Regions from separate parts of the Homo sapiens genome. Here region 2 is linked to region 1. Evidence: fine-mapped expression QTL. Tissue or cell type: whole blood. Region 1 holds a variant in brackets; the other region holds the start of a gene. All regions are shown on one strand. Distances are from middle to middle.

Region 1 (8,103 bases):
TGGCCACTGGAAGGCAAGAAAACCCACTGGAAGTTTTAGGATAGGCACCAAATCTATTTATAAACAAAGCAAAGCAATTTTATTAATCTGTAAAATATAAACAGATACCTGACTGGGAATATGAGATAAACTAGAAGGTTCTATTCTTTCTTTCTTCCACTTCATTTCAAAACTAGTAGAAAGGGAAAAGAAATGCTAAGGTATATGATACCCTATTGTTACCACATTTTCTTGTGCCACTGAAAAGATCTGAACTCTATTACATTTCCCAAAACCAACAACTTTTGTGTTTTCTTGGTTTATAAGTTTTTGAAAAATATAAAATCTAGGCCAGGCATGGTGGCTCACGCCTGTAATCTCATCACTTTGGGAGGCCGAGGAGGGCGGATCACGAGGTCTGGAGTTTGAAACCAGCTTGGCCAAGATGGTGAAACCCTGTCTCTACTAAAAACACAAAATTAGTTGGGCATGGTAGCAAGTGCCTGTACTCCCAGCTACTCAGGAGGCTGAGGCAGGAGAATCGCCTGAACTCAGGAGGCGGAGGTTGCAGTGACCTGAGGTTGTGCCACTGCCCTCTAGCCTGGGCAACAGAGCAAGACACCGTCTCAAAAATAAATAAATAAATAATATAAAATCTAATAATAAACTAACAATGCTTGAATTCATGCATTAAAACAGTACTATCTTTCAAAGTAGCTACATACCTAGTCTAAATAATATGCATTGTTGAATGTATTCTTTGAGCTCCACTTTTTTGGAAATAGGATATTTGCTACAAAACTCATCTGTTTATCTTATACTGTAAGTACACTTGTATATATTTGAGGAAACAGCCCTAAAAATCTCAGGGGGAAATTATTTCCCAACTTTATTTTTAATTAAAAAAATACAAAAGATCAAAAAGGAAACAAAACAGATTTTCCATTGAACTGGTTCAACTTTTTTGTAGATCTTCCTATAAATATTTCAAATATGATTTTTTTTTAAATTTGTAGACAGGATCTAGCTCTGTTGCCCAGGCTGGAGTGCAGTTGCACAATCACAGATCACTGCAGCCTGCCTCAGCCTCCCAAGCATCTGAGACTACAGGCATGAGACAGGGTTTCAGTATTACCCAGGCTGATCTCAAACTCCTGGGCTCAAGTGATCCTCCCATCATGGCCTCCCAAAGTGCTGGGATTACAGGCATGAGTCACTGAGCCTGGCCAAATATGTTCATTTTAATGGTTAAATAAAACATACACATTTACATTCCAAACAAAGTTACTTTAGGCTTCTATATAAAATACTGCAGGCCAGGTATGGTGGCTCACGCCTGCAATCCCAGTATTTTGGGAGGCCAAAGTGGGAGAATCACTTGAGCCCAGGAGTTCGAAACCAGCTTAGGCAACATAGTGAGACCACATCTCCAAAAAAAAAAATTTTTTTTAATGAATAAAATACTGCATATATATTCACTAAAAAAGAATTTATGGCCGGGCGCGGTGGCGGCTCACGCTTGTAATCCCACCACTTTGGGAGGCTGAGGCGGGTGGATCACCTGAGGTCAGGAGTTTGAGACCAGCCTGGGCAACATGGTGAAACCCCGTCTCTACTAAAAATACAAAGATTTGCCGGGCGTGGTGGCACACACCTGTAATCCCAGCTACTCAGGAGGCTGAAGCAGAAGAATTGCTTGAGCCTGGGAGACAGAGGTTGCACTGCGCTGAGATCATGCCACTGTACTCCAGCCTGGCCAACACAGTAAGACTCTATCTCAAAAAAAAAAAAAAAAAAAAAAAGAAAGAAAGAAAGAAAAGAAAAGAATTTATGCCAAGCACAGTGGCTCACACCTGTAATCCCAGCACTTTCAGAGGCAGAGCTGGGCAGATCACTTGAGCTCAGGATTTCAAGACTAACCTGGGCAACGTGACAAAACCCCATCTCTACAAAAAATACAAAAATTAGCTGGGCATGGTAGTGCACGTTTGTGGTCCCAGCTACTCAGGAGGCTGAGGTAGGAGGATCGCTTGAGCCTGGGAGGTGGAAGTTGCAGTGAGCTGAGATTGTGCCACTGCACTCCAGCCTGTGTGACAGAGTAAGACCCTGTCTCTAAAAAGAATTTCTGTATATATATTTTTGGGAAGTAACTTCTAACTAATTCAGTTGAGAGGTAGAAAAAAATATAAGCCTTTTATTTTTTGCATTAAACAGTAGAAACATAGAACTCATATTTTATCATTTAGCCTCTAAAATAGCCAAATGTATAACTCAGAAGGAATCATGAAAAGGCTAGATGAAAAGCACCAGTCAGTTAAAATTAAGCTGTACATAAACTTACCAATGAATCTTCGACAGGTGATTCAAGTGGTCCTACAATTTGTTCCTTTATAAAGCAAATATCTTCTTCAGGGATGAGACCATATTGTTCCATGACAGGCTTAATTCCATTAGAATTAATAAGGTGCTCAAACATCATAACTGAGCCTTGTTCATGCTAGGAAAAGTAAGCACAATATGATGTGTTAAAGATTCTAGCCCATTGGGAGCCCTGACTAACAAAATTATCCTCAATTCCAAGTAATTCTGAGATAAAGGTCTATTGCATATTAATTCTCTAGTTTCTAACCACAATCTTAGGAACATTTTTAAAAACCTGTCAGATTTTTCATTTTACTAGTAGTCTACAAACCTTTTACAAAACTTATTTCATAAACATATTTAATGCATTTAATGATATAATCATTTACAGTTCCTAAATGAATATTATAAGATCATGTAGACAGAATTACATTTTAATAAATATCATCATAAAATTGAATTTTATTTTTTCATCAGCCTTTGAACACGTGCAGTTATAAGCTCTGTTAGGCACTACCATCTAGTGGTGAAAAGGGGTAACTGCAAACTTGCCAGTAAAAACAAAGATCTCCCTTGAAATCTCCAATTGGCCTGTTTGCTCATCTCTCTCTGCTCACTCATTCACAATCAATGTAAAGGATCAAATGAACTCCTGAAGACATCTGCCCTTTCCTAGATCCTACCAAAAACTAACTCAAGATGAAAAACAAAACCTGAATTATCCTATAACTATATTTTTTTAAAAAAAGAGACAGGGAATTGCTCTGTTGCCCTGGCTAGAGTCCAGTGATGTGATCATGGGGTCACTGTAGTCTTGAACTCCTGGGCTCAAGTGATCCTCCCACTTCAGCCTCCCGAGTAGCTGAAACCACAGGTGCACACCACCCTACCCAGCTAATTTTTAGATTTTTTTGTAGAGGCAGGGTCTTGATTTGTTGACCAGGTTGGTCTTGAACTCCTAGGCTCAAATAATCCTCCTGTCTCAGCCTCCCAAAGTGGCAGGATTACAAGCAACTTGCCCTATAACTATTCTTTCCCCGCCCCCGCAGAAACAATTCTTGCTCCAGAAACTATTCTTAAAAACAGAATCAGGGCTGTCAGGCCTGGGTGCGGTGGCTCACACCTGTAATCCCAGCGTTTTGGGAGGCCGAGGTGGGCGGATCACTTGAGGTCAACAGTACAAGTTTGGCCAACATGGCAAAACCTCCTGTCTACTAAAAAATACAAAAATTAGCCAGGCATGGTAGGGTGCACCTATAATCCCAGCTACTTGGGGGACTGAGGCAGGACAATCACTTGAACCCAGGAGGTGGAGGTTGCAGTGAGCCGAGATCGCCCTGCACTCCAGCCTGGGTGGGCAACAAAGTGACACTCTGTTTCAAAAGAAAAAAAAAAAAACCCACAAAAACAGAATCAGGCTGGGTGCAGTGGCTCACATTTGTAATCCTAGCATTTTTTTGAGAGGCAAAGGTGGGAGGATTGCTTGAGCCCAGGAGTTCGAGAGCAGCCTGGGCAACAAAGCAAGACCCTGTCTCTACAAAAAGATAAAAAGATTGGCTGGGTATAGTGACATGCGCCTGTGGTCCCAGCTACTTGGGAGACCAAGGTGGGAGGATTGCTTGAGCCCAGGTGGTTGAGGCTGCAGTTAGCTATGTTCATGCCTGTACTCCAGCCTGGGCAACAGAGCAAGACCTTGTCTCCAAAAAACAACAACAACAACAAACAAATTGGCCGGGCACAGTAGCTCACGCCTGTAATCCCAGCACTTTAGGAGGCGGAGGCAGGCAGATCACGAGGTCAGGAGATCAAGATCATACTGGCCAACATGGTGACACCCCATCTCTACTAAAAATATAAAAATTAGCTGGGTGTGGTGGCATGCACCTGTAGTCCCAGCTACTCAGGAGGCTGAAGCAGGAGAAACGCTTGAACTCGGGAGGCGGAGGTTGCAGTGAGCCGAGATCACGCCACTGCACTACAGGCTGGGCGACACAGCGAGA[C/A]TCTGTCTCAAAAAAAAAAAAAAAAAAAACGAATTGAATCAAGATATACGTAATTACAAAGAGGAAAAATAGTAACTTTATAATGGAGAGATTTGACAGACAATGCCTTAATCAAGTAAGCAGAATTAATATCATTGGTATTGGCTCAACTAGGATTTATGTGCCTCCTGAGATGATACACTATGAAGGATGCATCACTGATTTTTTTGGAGACAGAGTCTAGCTCTGTCACCTCCTGGGCTCCCGGGCTCAAGCAATTCTCCTTCCTCAGCCTCCCAAGTAGGCACGTGCCACCACACCCAGCTAATTTTTTGTGGTTGTTTTTTTTTTTTTTCCCTCTTGTTGCCCAGGCTGGAGTGAAATGGCGTGATCTTGGCTCACTGCAACCTCCGCCTCCCAGGTTCAGGTGATTCTCCTGCCTCAGCCTCCCGAGTAGCTGGGATTACAGGTGCCCACCACCATGCCCAGATAATTTTTATATTTTTAGTAGAGACAGGGTTTCGCCATATTGGCCAGGCTGGTCTCCAACTTCTGACCTCAGGTAATCCACCCACCTTGGCCTCCCAAAGTGCTGGGATTACAGATGTGAGCCACTGCGTCCGATCTGGACACATCACTTTTGTGGCATTCTACCAAAAATGCATAGCTTGAATCCATGAGGAAACATCACACTGAAACTCAAATTGAGGAACATTCCACAAAATAGCTCAGTTGCTCTTTAAAAAAATGACAAAGTCACTAACGATAAAGACTGAAGAATTGCTCCAGATCAAAAGAAACTAGAAAAATGGCAACTAAATGCAATGTGTAATTCTGGACCAGGGAAAAAAAGTTTTTTTCCCCTTTTTCTATATGGACAATTGGTAAAATTTGAAAGTCTGAATTAGATAAGAGTACTGCATCAACATTAATTTACTGATTTTGATAATTATACTATGGTTATATAAGAAAATGTTGTTTTTAGGAAATACCCACTGAAGTATTTAGAAATAAAGTATTTCAACAATTTACATTCTTTGAGAGACAGGGCTCTTGCTCTATCACCCAGGCTGGAGCTCAGTGGCATATTCATAGCTCAGTGTATCCCTGAACTCCTGGATTCAAGTAATCCTCCCGTTCTCAGTAGCTAGGACCACAGGTGTGCACCACAATGACCAGCTGATGTTTTCATAATTTTGTAGAGACAGTTTCACTATGTTGCCCAGGCTGGTGTTGAACTCCTGGGCTCAAAGCTATCCTCCTGCCTTAGCCTCCCAAACTGTTGGGATTACAGGTGTAAGCCACTGTGTCCAGTCTAAAAACTAACTTTCTTTTTTTGAGACAAGTTCTCACTCTGTTACCTACGTTGGAGTGCAGTAGCACGATCACAGCTCATTGCAGCCTCGACCTCCCAGGCTCAAGCAATCCTGCCACCCCACCATGCCTGGCTAATTTTTAAATTTTTTTGTAGAGACGGGGTTTCACCATGTTGTCCAGGCTGGTCTTGAACTCCTGGGCTCAAGCGATCTGCCCACCTTGGCCTCCCAAAATGTTGATATTACAACCATGAGCCACTGTGCCTGGTCAAAACTTACTTTCTAATGATTCAGAAAAAAAATATCTATATATAAAGAGAGAGTATTTTATTTATTTTTTGACACAGTGTCTCACTCTGTCACCCAGGCTGGAGTGCAGTGGCGTGATTTCAGCTCACTGCAAGCTCCGCCTCCTGGGTTCACGCCATTCTCCTGCCTCAGCCTCCTGAGTAGCTGGGACTACAGGTGCCTGCCACCACACCCAGCCAATTTTTTTGTATTTTTAGTAGAGACGGGATTTCACCGTTAGCCAGGATGGTCTCAATCTTCTGACCTTGTGATCCGCCCACCTTGGCCTCCCAAAGTGCTCAGATTACAGGCGCGAGCCACCACGCCTGGCCAAGAGAGAGTATTTTAAAAAATAAAAATGAGGTGGATCACTTGACCCTGGGAGGCAGAGGTTGCAGTGAGCTTAGATGACATCACTGAGCTCCTGCCCGGGTGACAGGGCAAGACCCTCTCTCAAAAACAATAAAATAAAAATAAATAAATAAATAAATAAAGTAAGGGATTTTCAAAATAGTAGTTTTAAATATATCAATGCCAACTGTGAATATACTAGCAAACAGAAAAAATTAAGTTTCATAAAGCTAGCACAGACCATAATAACAACTAAAATTATAAGGAACTTAGGAGTAAGTATAACAAAGATGTATGACTTTCATGGCAAGCCTAGGCAACATAGTAAGACTCCATCTCTACAAATAAATACCCAGGTGTGACGGTGCAGGCCTGTGGCCCCAGCTACTTGGGAGGCTGAGATGGAAGGATCGCTTGAGTCTGGAGGTCAAGACCAGCCTGGGCAACATAGTAAGACTCTGTTCTCCACAGAAAGGAAAAAATAAAAACATAAATCTTATTATAAAGTATGTCAACCTAAAAGGAAGGAGCTGAGAAATATTTAATATAGAGAGTTTATTTGGGCCAAGGTTGAGGACACATTTACAAATTGCCTTGGGGAATGCTTGGGGAGAACAAAAGAGGCTCAAGTTTTTAAACAAAAAAGGACTGGCCAGGTGTGGTGGCTTAGGCCTGTAATCTCAGCACTTTAGGAGGCCAAGCGGGGCAGATAGCTTGAGCTCGGGAGTTGAGACCAGTCTGGGTAACAAAGTGAGGCCCACTCCCTCTACAAAAAATATAAAAAATTAGCTGGGCATGGTAGTGTGTGCCTGTAGTCCCAGCTACTCTGGAGGATGAAGTGGGAGAATTGCTTGAGCCTTGGAAGTCGAGGTTGCAGTAAGCCATGTTTGCACCACTGCACTCCACCCTGGGTGACAAAGCAAGATCCTGTTGAGGGGAGGGGAGGGGAAAGGAGGGAAGGGGGAAGGGGAAAGAAAAGGAAGGGAAAGAAGGGAAGGAAGGGAAAGAAAGGAAGGAAAGGAAGGAAGGAAGGGAAAAAGAGAAAGAATGAGAAAGAAAGAAAGTGAGAAAGAGAAAAAGAGAGACAGAGACAGAAGGGAGAGAAAAGAAAAAAAAAGAAAAGAGCATAAATCAGGAGGAGGAGGTGATCACAAAGAGGAGGTGATAACAAAAGTTGTTAGTCAGGAATGTTCACTGGCTTACAGAAATAACATTAGTTAGTGATTGGCTACATATTATGAAGTACAGGATATATGGCATTTTATGGTTACCTGGCATCCCACATAACAGCTGGCTTCAAGAGATAATAATTATTTAGCTCAAGGGGGCGTGACATGATTGCTGTTCTATTTCAATGCCTCTCTGGGCCTGATAATGTAAAGGGGCTCATATTTCTCAGATAAAAATTTCTTTTCTTCTTTTTTTTTCTTCCCCAAGTAACAAGTGTGGAAACAGAACAGAATGCAGAATGATTCATCATATATGGGAAGTTAATAAATGTTGGGGTTGGTATTACAGTCAGTGGGGATAGGATGAACTATTAAAAAATTAGATTTCTCGGCCGGGCACGGTGGCTCACGTCTGTAATCCCAGCGCTTTGGGAGGCCGATGTGGGTGGATCATGAGATCAGGAGTTCGAGACCAGCCTAACCAACATGGTGAAAGCCATCTCTACTAAAAATACAAAAGTCAGCCAGGTGTGGTAGCACATGCCTGTAATCCCAGCTATTCAGGAGGCTGAGGCAGGAGACTCGCTTGAACCCAGGAGGTGGAGGTTGCAGTGAGCCAAGATCGCACCACTGCACTCCAGCCTGGGCAACAGAGTGAGA
Region 2 (8,103 bases), 30 kb after region 1:
CTCAATACTCTGATTTGGAAGAGGTGTGTGTGTGTGTGTGTGTGTGTGTGTGTGTGTGTGTGTCCTGGGAAAGCACTCAATACTCTGATTTGGAAGAGGTGTGTGTGATTTGGAAGAGGTGTGTGTGTGTGTGTGTGTGTGTGTGTGTGTGTGTCCTGGGAAAGCACTCAATACTCTGATTTGGAAGAGGTGTGTGTGTGTGTGAGTGTGTGTGTGTGTGTGTGTGTCCTGGGAAAGCACTCAATACTCTGATTTGGAAGAGGGGTGTGTGTGTGTGTGTGTGTGTGTGTGTGTGTGTGTGTGTTGTTGGGTTTTTTCCTTTCTCTTTCTATACAATTAATTCTAATCTTTCCTGACCTCAAATTCCAGAACTCTGGACTATTTTCTTTTATTTTCTTTGAGACAGGGTTTTGCTTGTTGCCCAGGTTGGAGTGCAGTGGTGCGATCACATCTCACTGCAGCCTTGACCTCCTGGGCTCAAGCGATCCTCCTGCCTCAGCCTCCTGAGTAGCTGGGACCACAGGCATGTGCCACTGCACCTAGCTAATTTTTATTTTTATTTTTTGTAAAGTTGAGGTCTCCTGATGTTGCCCAGGCTGGTCTTGAATTCTTGGGCTCAAGTGATCTTCCCACACTGGCCTCCCAAAGTGCTGGGATTATAGGTATGAGCCACTGGGCCAGGCCTCCAGTGGTTTTTGATGAGAATACTTGTTAAGGTATAGATCACATGAGTTCTAGAGTCCAAAGACCTAACCTTAAAAAATCTAGCTCTTTTTTGTAGTGGTGTGATCTCTGAAAAGTTACTTTACATCTTTGGACCTCGCATACATCATCGGTAAAATGTGTTGAGTGTAGTAACTTATTTCAGACTTCTTGTGAGGCTGTATTCCATAATGAGAAAAGGGACACTGTACCTTGTGCTTGGCTTATCAAATTAAAAAAAAAATGGACTTAGATAAAGAGAGACTTTTTTTTTCTTTTCCGAGATGGAGTCTCACTCGGTCGCCCAGGCTGGAGTGCAGTGGCGGGATCTTGGCTCACTGCAACCTCCGCCTCCCAGGTTCAAGTGATTCTCCTGCCTCAGCTTCCCAAGTAGCTGGGACTACAGGCACATACCACCATGCCCGGCTAATTTTTGTATTTTTAGTAGAGACGGTGTTTCACCATGTTGGCCAGGCTGGGCTTGAATTCCTGACCTCAGGTGATCTACCTGCTTCGGCCTTCCAAAGTGCTGGGATTACAGGCGTGAGCCACCGTGCCCGGCCAAGAGAAACTTTATTAGAAAGAAAGACTATTGCTGGTCGGGCGTGGTGGCTCACACCTGTAATCCCAGCACTTTGGGAGGCCAAGGCGTGTGAATCATCAGGTCAAGAGATTAAGACCATCCTGGCCAACATGGTGAAACCCCATCTCTACTAAAAATACAAAAATTAGCCAGGTGTGGTGGTGGGCACCTGTAGTCACAGCTACTCAGGAGGCTGAGGCAGGAGAATTGCTTGAACCCGGGAGGCAGAGGTTACAGTGAGCCGAGATCACACCACTGCATTTCAGCCTGGCGACAGAGCGAGACTCTGTCTCAAAAAAAAAAAAAAAAGAAAAGAAAAAAAGAAAAGAAAAGAAGAAAGACTATTTCTACAGGGAGAAAGCTCCAATATCAGATATCTGCAAGAGGCTCAGGAATCAAACACATAGGCCGGCCGGGCGCGGTGGCTCACGCCTGTAATCCCAGCACTTTGGGAGGCAGAGGCGGATGCATCACCTGAGGACAGGAGTTGGAGACCAGCCTGGCCAACATGGTGAAACCCTGTCTTTACTAAAAACACAAAATTAGCCAGGCGTGGTGGCGTGCACCTGTAATCCCAGCAACTAGGGAGGCTGAGGCAGGAGAACCACTTGAACCCGAGAGGCAGAGGTTGCAGTGAGCTGAGATTGTGCCGGTGCACTTCAGCCTGCGTGACAGAGCGAGACTCCATCTCAGAAAAAAAATAAAATAATAAAATAAATTTTAAAAAATAATCAAACAGAGGCCCAAGAACCAAACAGAGGTTGGGCATGGTGGCTCACACTTGTAATCCCAGCACTTTAGGAGGCCGAGGTGGGTGGATGGTCACTCGAAGCCAAGAGTTTGAGACCAGCCTGGCCAACATGGCAAAACCCTGTCTCTAATTAAAAAAAAAAAAAAAATGAGGCCGGGCGCGGTGGCTCACGCCTGTAATCCCAGCACTTTGGGAGGCTGAGGCAGGCGGATCACGAGTTCAGGAGATGGAGACCATCCTGGCCAACATGGTGAAACCCCATCTCTACTAAAAATACAAAAAAATTAGCTGGGCGTGGTGGCACATGCCTGTAATCCCAGCTACTCGGGAGGCTGAGGCAGGAGAATAGCTTGAACCAGGCAGTTAGAGGTTGCACTGGGCCGAGATGGCGCCACTGCACTCCAGCCTGGCGACAGAGCGAGACTCTGTCTCAAAAAAAAAAAAAAAAAAAAAAAAGAATCCAACAGAAAAAGGGTCTTCTTTTATATGATAAAGGACGGGCAAGCAGAAATAAGCAGAATCTTTGGATAGGAACCTGGACGAGCAAGGGAAAATGAGCAGTGTAGCCCAACAGGACAGCATCCTACTGTGGTCAGCCGGTTCTCAAAAGAAACTGACCAGAGGGAGGCATATTCCACTGCTTTAGTGCCTGCCTGGTCAGATCTGGGGGTAAGCAAGAGTTGAGGGGCCCATAAGGGAAGAGAGAAGTCCGAATAAAGTTTGGTCAAGACAAAGCAGAAGCTAAGACATGAGCAATTGGGAACAGTTGGTCAGTTTTTACCAAATGAAAGCACATAGTGTCTTTGATAGCAATAGGTTGTAGGTTTAAGGAACACACATCATTCTGGAGGGTAACGAGTTAATCTACAAACCACTGAAACAGAGAGCCAACCACATTTTGAGACAGAAAATATGGAACTACTTCACTCCACTTGTTGCTAGTCAAAGAAAATAAAGTAATAATCCATCCCAGCAGTGGAGGGAAACGAAAGGGCAAAAGGGGGAAGAAAAAAAAAAAAGGAGAAATGCAATTTCCCATACCCATTCAAGCTATCTTTGGGTCCTGAACCACTAATGTTCCTCCTACCCCAGTTTCCAACCTAGCCAAACAGGGCCCCACCTAACAAATGCAAAAATTTACTAAATTTGCAAATCCCAACCACCAAAGAATCACCTTCCTATTGGACACCTAGAGGATATAAGGCAGGAGTCAAATCTCACACCCACCACAAAAAGTTGAGTAGAATTCACAAGGATGGATGCTTGGATACGAATCAGTAAAATATGATTAAAACTCAACCTAAACACTTCTCCAGGGGATGTGGCCAAACTGTGGCATGCTGGGGATTCAGTGGTCAACTGAACAACCCCAAGGTTCAGATTTTGGAGGGGAACCTGCTTTTAAAGAGCAAAACATGTTCCTTACCATGTTCTGCAAGTGCAGTCAACACACGCCTATCGGGCGCTGCTGGGATGCCAAGGAAGGTGATGGGAATTCAGAGATTAACCAAGCCAGTTCCTTCCCCTTCAGGAAAAGCCTCAATTCAGGGAGGAAACCGAAACCTAAAAGCCCCAGAACATCCTCTGATGTGGCAAGTGTTCAAGGAGCTGCGGTTAGCGCGGAGGGGTCCCGCGAGCCTGGATGACAGCAAGCCGCCCACCAAGGTCTGGGGAAAAATCTCCTTCTAACTAAAAAAAAGGGACCCGAGTCTCGCTTGTCCCGCGCCGGGGTGGCAAGTTAGTGAAGAAACCCACGAGAGTGAGATCCCAATCTACGACTGCCCCTCCCAGGTCCTCAATCCCGGGAGCCTGCTCCCATCCTACGAATCGCCTATCCCAGGCGACCCCATGTCTTCTTCCTCCGCCTCGGGGAGTCAGTCCCGGGAGCCCCATGCCGCAGGCCCTCCTGGGAACCCCCGCCGCAGGGCTCCCTCCCCCGCCTCGGGTCTTCCTTTCCTCGGCGCCCCCAGCGCAGGTCCGCCCTCCCGGGTGCCTCCCGCCGCAGGGCTCGCTCCTCGGCCTCGGTCCTCTCGTGGGGCCCCCTCCCTCAGGGCGCCTGGCCCGCGCCCCAGGTCGCCGCCCTTCGCCCCTCAGCCCCTCCGGAGCCGCTACCTCGGATGTTCTTCAGCAGCACCGGCTCTTCAAAGCCACCGCGCCTGAGGAAGGAGCACACCTGCTCCGGACCCCATGTCTTGTAGTCGGGATGGAGTTCCAGGCCCGGGGACCAGTCTGCCTCTGCGGAAGGGGTGTTTGAGGGGGTTCTCGGGCTGTCATCGCAACGGGGACGCTTGGAGGGCTGCTCGGAATCGGCTCGCTGCATGGCTACACCTGGCGTCCGGCACAGCAGTCAAGAACCTCGGCGCCGGACCCGCGCGCAGGCGCACTGACAGCAGGGCCCTGGCGGGGAGTCCAAGGAGTATTGGCAGCCTATTGGCCTCCTGCGCAGGCTCACTGACAGTTGAGCCCTTCGGGCAGGGCAGCCTAGCGGCTCTTGCCTTGGGCTCCCTGCGCAGGCGCAATGGCAGTCCAGTCGTCCTCAAATCAATCCCGCCAGGGCGCTGGACGTGAACGCGAAAGGGCGTGGCTAGAAGCAGAACTGAGGGCAGTGCTGGTGGAAAGGGGGAGGAAAGAGCGCGCCCGGCACCGCACCCCCAATTAGGGGCTCGTCTAGTGAATTGGGGGTATTCTCCTTCGAATGAGTACACTACCCGCCGCACCTTGGCCGGGTTTCAGATGCCCCAAACTTAAAAGAAGCCTAAAAGGCCGTCAGGCTGCCAGCACCTTCCCAGTGAAGAGGAAAACAGTCAAGGTGCTGAACTGGAAGAACCCGGAATGATTTCAAATGTGACTTGAGGGTGTCTTCATTCCACAGTATTGCTGGTCAACTAGAGGGCCCTGGGATACCTGTTGTCTGGTGTCCACACAGGAGGGGACTTCAGACTTCTTTCCAACTAGAGACAGAGCCCTCCATCCCAACTGCATTCCCAGAGGAAGGAAAGTGGCCAGTCTGATTACTTAAAATTTAACTTCTGAGGACTTTTACTGCCTGGTTGTAACAGCATGTGAAAATGGCAGGCATTTTCCCATCACTTAACCCCTCTGCGGCAGGGCTCAAACTTCCCTATAAATACTGGTCCATGCAATTGCCTGGTAAAAGGACATATCACTATTACTGTTAATAAAGCCAACACACCTTCCCAGCAACCAAGGCATAGACCTGTTTAGGGGGTCAAGGACGAATGAGGCGGAATAGCTTATCATCAAGCAGTATGAACTAGTGGTCTACTGGTGAGCCAAAATATTATTTGCAAACAGAGCTTTACTGTGTGCCAGGCACGGTTCTAAGGGCTTTACAAATATAAAATAATTTTATATTTATACATAATACTAAATGAATTAAGTACATTCATTAAATTATTTAAATATTAAATAATTTTTATAACTTCTAAGGGTTTTACAAATATTGTAAAGTTCTAAGGGCTCTACACATATTACTTCACTTAATTATCACAATTACCTTAGGATGTAGGAAAAAGTAATTTGCCGCAGGTCTTCTTTTTTTTTTTTGAGACGGAGTCTTGCTCTGTTTCCCAAGCTGGAGTGCAGTGGCGTGATCTCAGCTCACTGCAACCTCTGCCTCCCAGGTTCAAGTGATTCTCATGCCTCAGACTCCCAAGTAGCTGGGACTACAGGCGCCTGCCACCACACCTGGCTAATTTTTGTATTTTTAGTAGAGACAGGATTTCACCATGTTGGCCAGGCTGGTCTTGAACTCCTGACCTCAGGTGATTCCCACACCTCAGCCTCCCAAAGTGCTGGGATTACACAGCCGTACCCAGCTGCCCAAGGTCTTACAGCTAGGAAATGATGAAGCCTGTATTCAAACCCAAGAGATGTAACTTGGTTCCAAAGTCCATGGTCTTGATAACTTGCCAACCACTGCTTGTTAAAGGGGGTTTGGGGCTGGGTGCAGTGGCTCATGCCTGTAATCCCAGCACTTTGGGAGGCCAGAGCACTCACTTGAGGCCAGGAGTTCAAGGCCAACCTGGCCAACATGGTGAAACCCCATCTCTACTAAAATACAAAAATTAGCCAGGCCTGGTGGTGCATGCCTGTAATCCCAGCTACTCAGGAGGCGGGGGCACGAGAATCACTCAAATGTGGGAGGTGTAGGTTGCAGTGAGCCAAGATCTTCCCGTTGCACTCCAGCCTGGGCAACAGAGCAAGACTCTGTTTCAAAAATAATAATAATAAAAAATAAATAAATAAGTAAAGGGGGTTTTGATATAAAACTATTTTCTATTATTTAACCCACAATTTTCAATGGCTCCCTTTTCCTGCAGACCCATGGAGGAAAGTATAAAGGTGTTCCTGCCAGGCGCAGTGGCTCACGTCTGTAATCCCAGCACTTTGGGAGGCCGAGGCGGGTGGATCACCTGAGGTCAGGAGTTCGAGACCAGCCTGGCCAACATGGCAAAACCCTGTCTCTACTAAAATTACAAAAATTAGCTGGGTGGCCAGGCGCAGTAGCTGTCACCTGTAATCCCAGCACTTTGGGAGGCCGAGGCGGGTGGATCACAAGGTCAGGAGTTCAAGACTAGTCTGGCCAACATGATGAAACCCGTCTCTACTAAAAATACAAAACAATTAGCTGGGCATCGTAGCAGGCACCTGTAATCCCAGCTACTTGAGAGGCTGAGGCAGAGAATTGCTTGAACCTGGGAGGCGGAGGTTGCAGTGAGCTTGGATCGCGCCACTGCACTCCAGCCTGGGCAACAGAGCGAGACTCCGTCTCAAAAAAAAAAAAAAAAAAATTAGCCGGGCGTGGTGGCAGCCGCCTGTAATCCCAGCTACTCAGGAGGCTGAGGCAGGAGAATCGCTTGAACCTGGGAGGTGGAGGTTGAAGTGAGCCATAGCCTGGGAGACAAAAGTGAAACTCTATCTCAAAAAAAAAAAAAAAAAAAGAGTTGTTTTCCATCTGCACACAAGGCCAGGCCCCCCAAAAAAATGCCCTCAAACACTAGAGAACTTTGTGAAAAGACCTGACAGTTGCCAAGACTTGCGAAACCAAAACGGGATAAGAAAACAAATAGCATATGTATGAAAGACTTAATCTCAAGTCAGAAATGGCTGATTTAAAAACTTGTGTTTATAAGACCTGTGGGGAAACCTGCCCTGACATCAAGGTTTCCTGGACAATAGAAGGTGTTATAGCAGGGTTTTTAGTTTAATCAACTGTGTTTGTTCAAAGCAGCTGCTTTTAAGAATTTTTAGTTTTTTAATTTCATTTTTTTATTTTAATTTTAATTTTAATTTTTTTTGAGACAGAGTCTTGCTCTGTGGCCCAGGGTGGAGTGCAGTGGTGCAATCTGGGCTCACTGCAAACCTCTGCCTCCCGGGTTCAAGCGATTCTCCTGCCTCAGCCTCCTGAGTAGCTGGGATTATAGGCACCCGCCACGACGCCCAACTAATTTTTTTGTATTTTTAGTAGAGACGGGGTTTCACCATGTTGGCCAGGCTGGCTTTGAACTCCTGACCTCAAGTGATCAGTGAACTCCTGACCTCAAGTGCCTTGGCCTCCCAAAGTGCTCAGATTACAGGCATGAGCCACCGCACCCATCCAGAACTTTTATTTTCTGTTTTTGTTTGTTAAAAAGTATAATTTATTGCCATACTTATTATATTTTCCCTAATTCCCTACTTTCAAGGGGCCTTTGATCTTGCGCTAGGTCATTAGTTACTTGTTCAGGGTCAACATGGCTGGTAAGGGACAGAGAGAGGATTCAAAGGCAGTGCTCCCTCGCTCCAAAGTATAGGCTCTTTCCAGTTTGCCACTTCATTTAACTCCTCTTACAGTCCTAACGATCCTTTTCCATCATAATTCCACAGCCTGGGAACCAACACCCACTGGACACAGGCCCTGGACTCTGGCCATAGTGAGAGAAATGACTGCTCAAGCTGCCCTCTTCTAAAGTCAATCTCAGTATGGTTAGGACTAGAAAAAACAATAAGATCAATTAATTTAAGGCCCACTGCCCAATGACCTTGAATAAGCCCAGCAAGCTTT

The links. PIP is the estimated chance that this variant, and not a neighbour inherited with it, causes the effect.
Region 2: it holds the start of SAMHD1, and the variant in region 1 is fine-mapped to the expression of SAMHD1 in whole blood (TOPMed, PIP above 0.99).

Annotation. Positions count from the first base shown.
Region 1 is chr20:36,917,044-36,925,146 of GRCh38, forward strand. SAMHD1 (SAM and HD domain containing deoxynucleoside triphosphate triphosphohydrolase 1) reads right to left here. Exons shown (of 16, transcript NM_015474.4): 7 at 2,321-2,476; 8 at 1-6. Among named protein-coding and RNA genes, the nearest start is that of SAMHD1, 31 kb to the right of the region's middle. The variant C/A (reference allele first, on the strand shown) is at 4,341.
Region 2 is chr20:36,947,288-36,955,390 of GRCh38, forward strand. SAMHD1 (SAM and HD domain containing deoxynucleoside triphosphate triphosphohydrolase 1) reads right to left here and starts at 4,421. Exons shown (of 16, transcript NM_015474.4): 1 at 4,149-4,421. The coding sequence starts at 4,356. RefSeq lists an enhancer at 1-323 and a silencer at 3,916-4,135.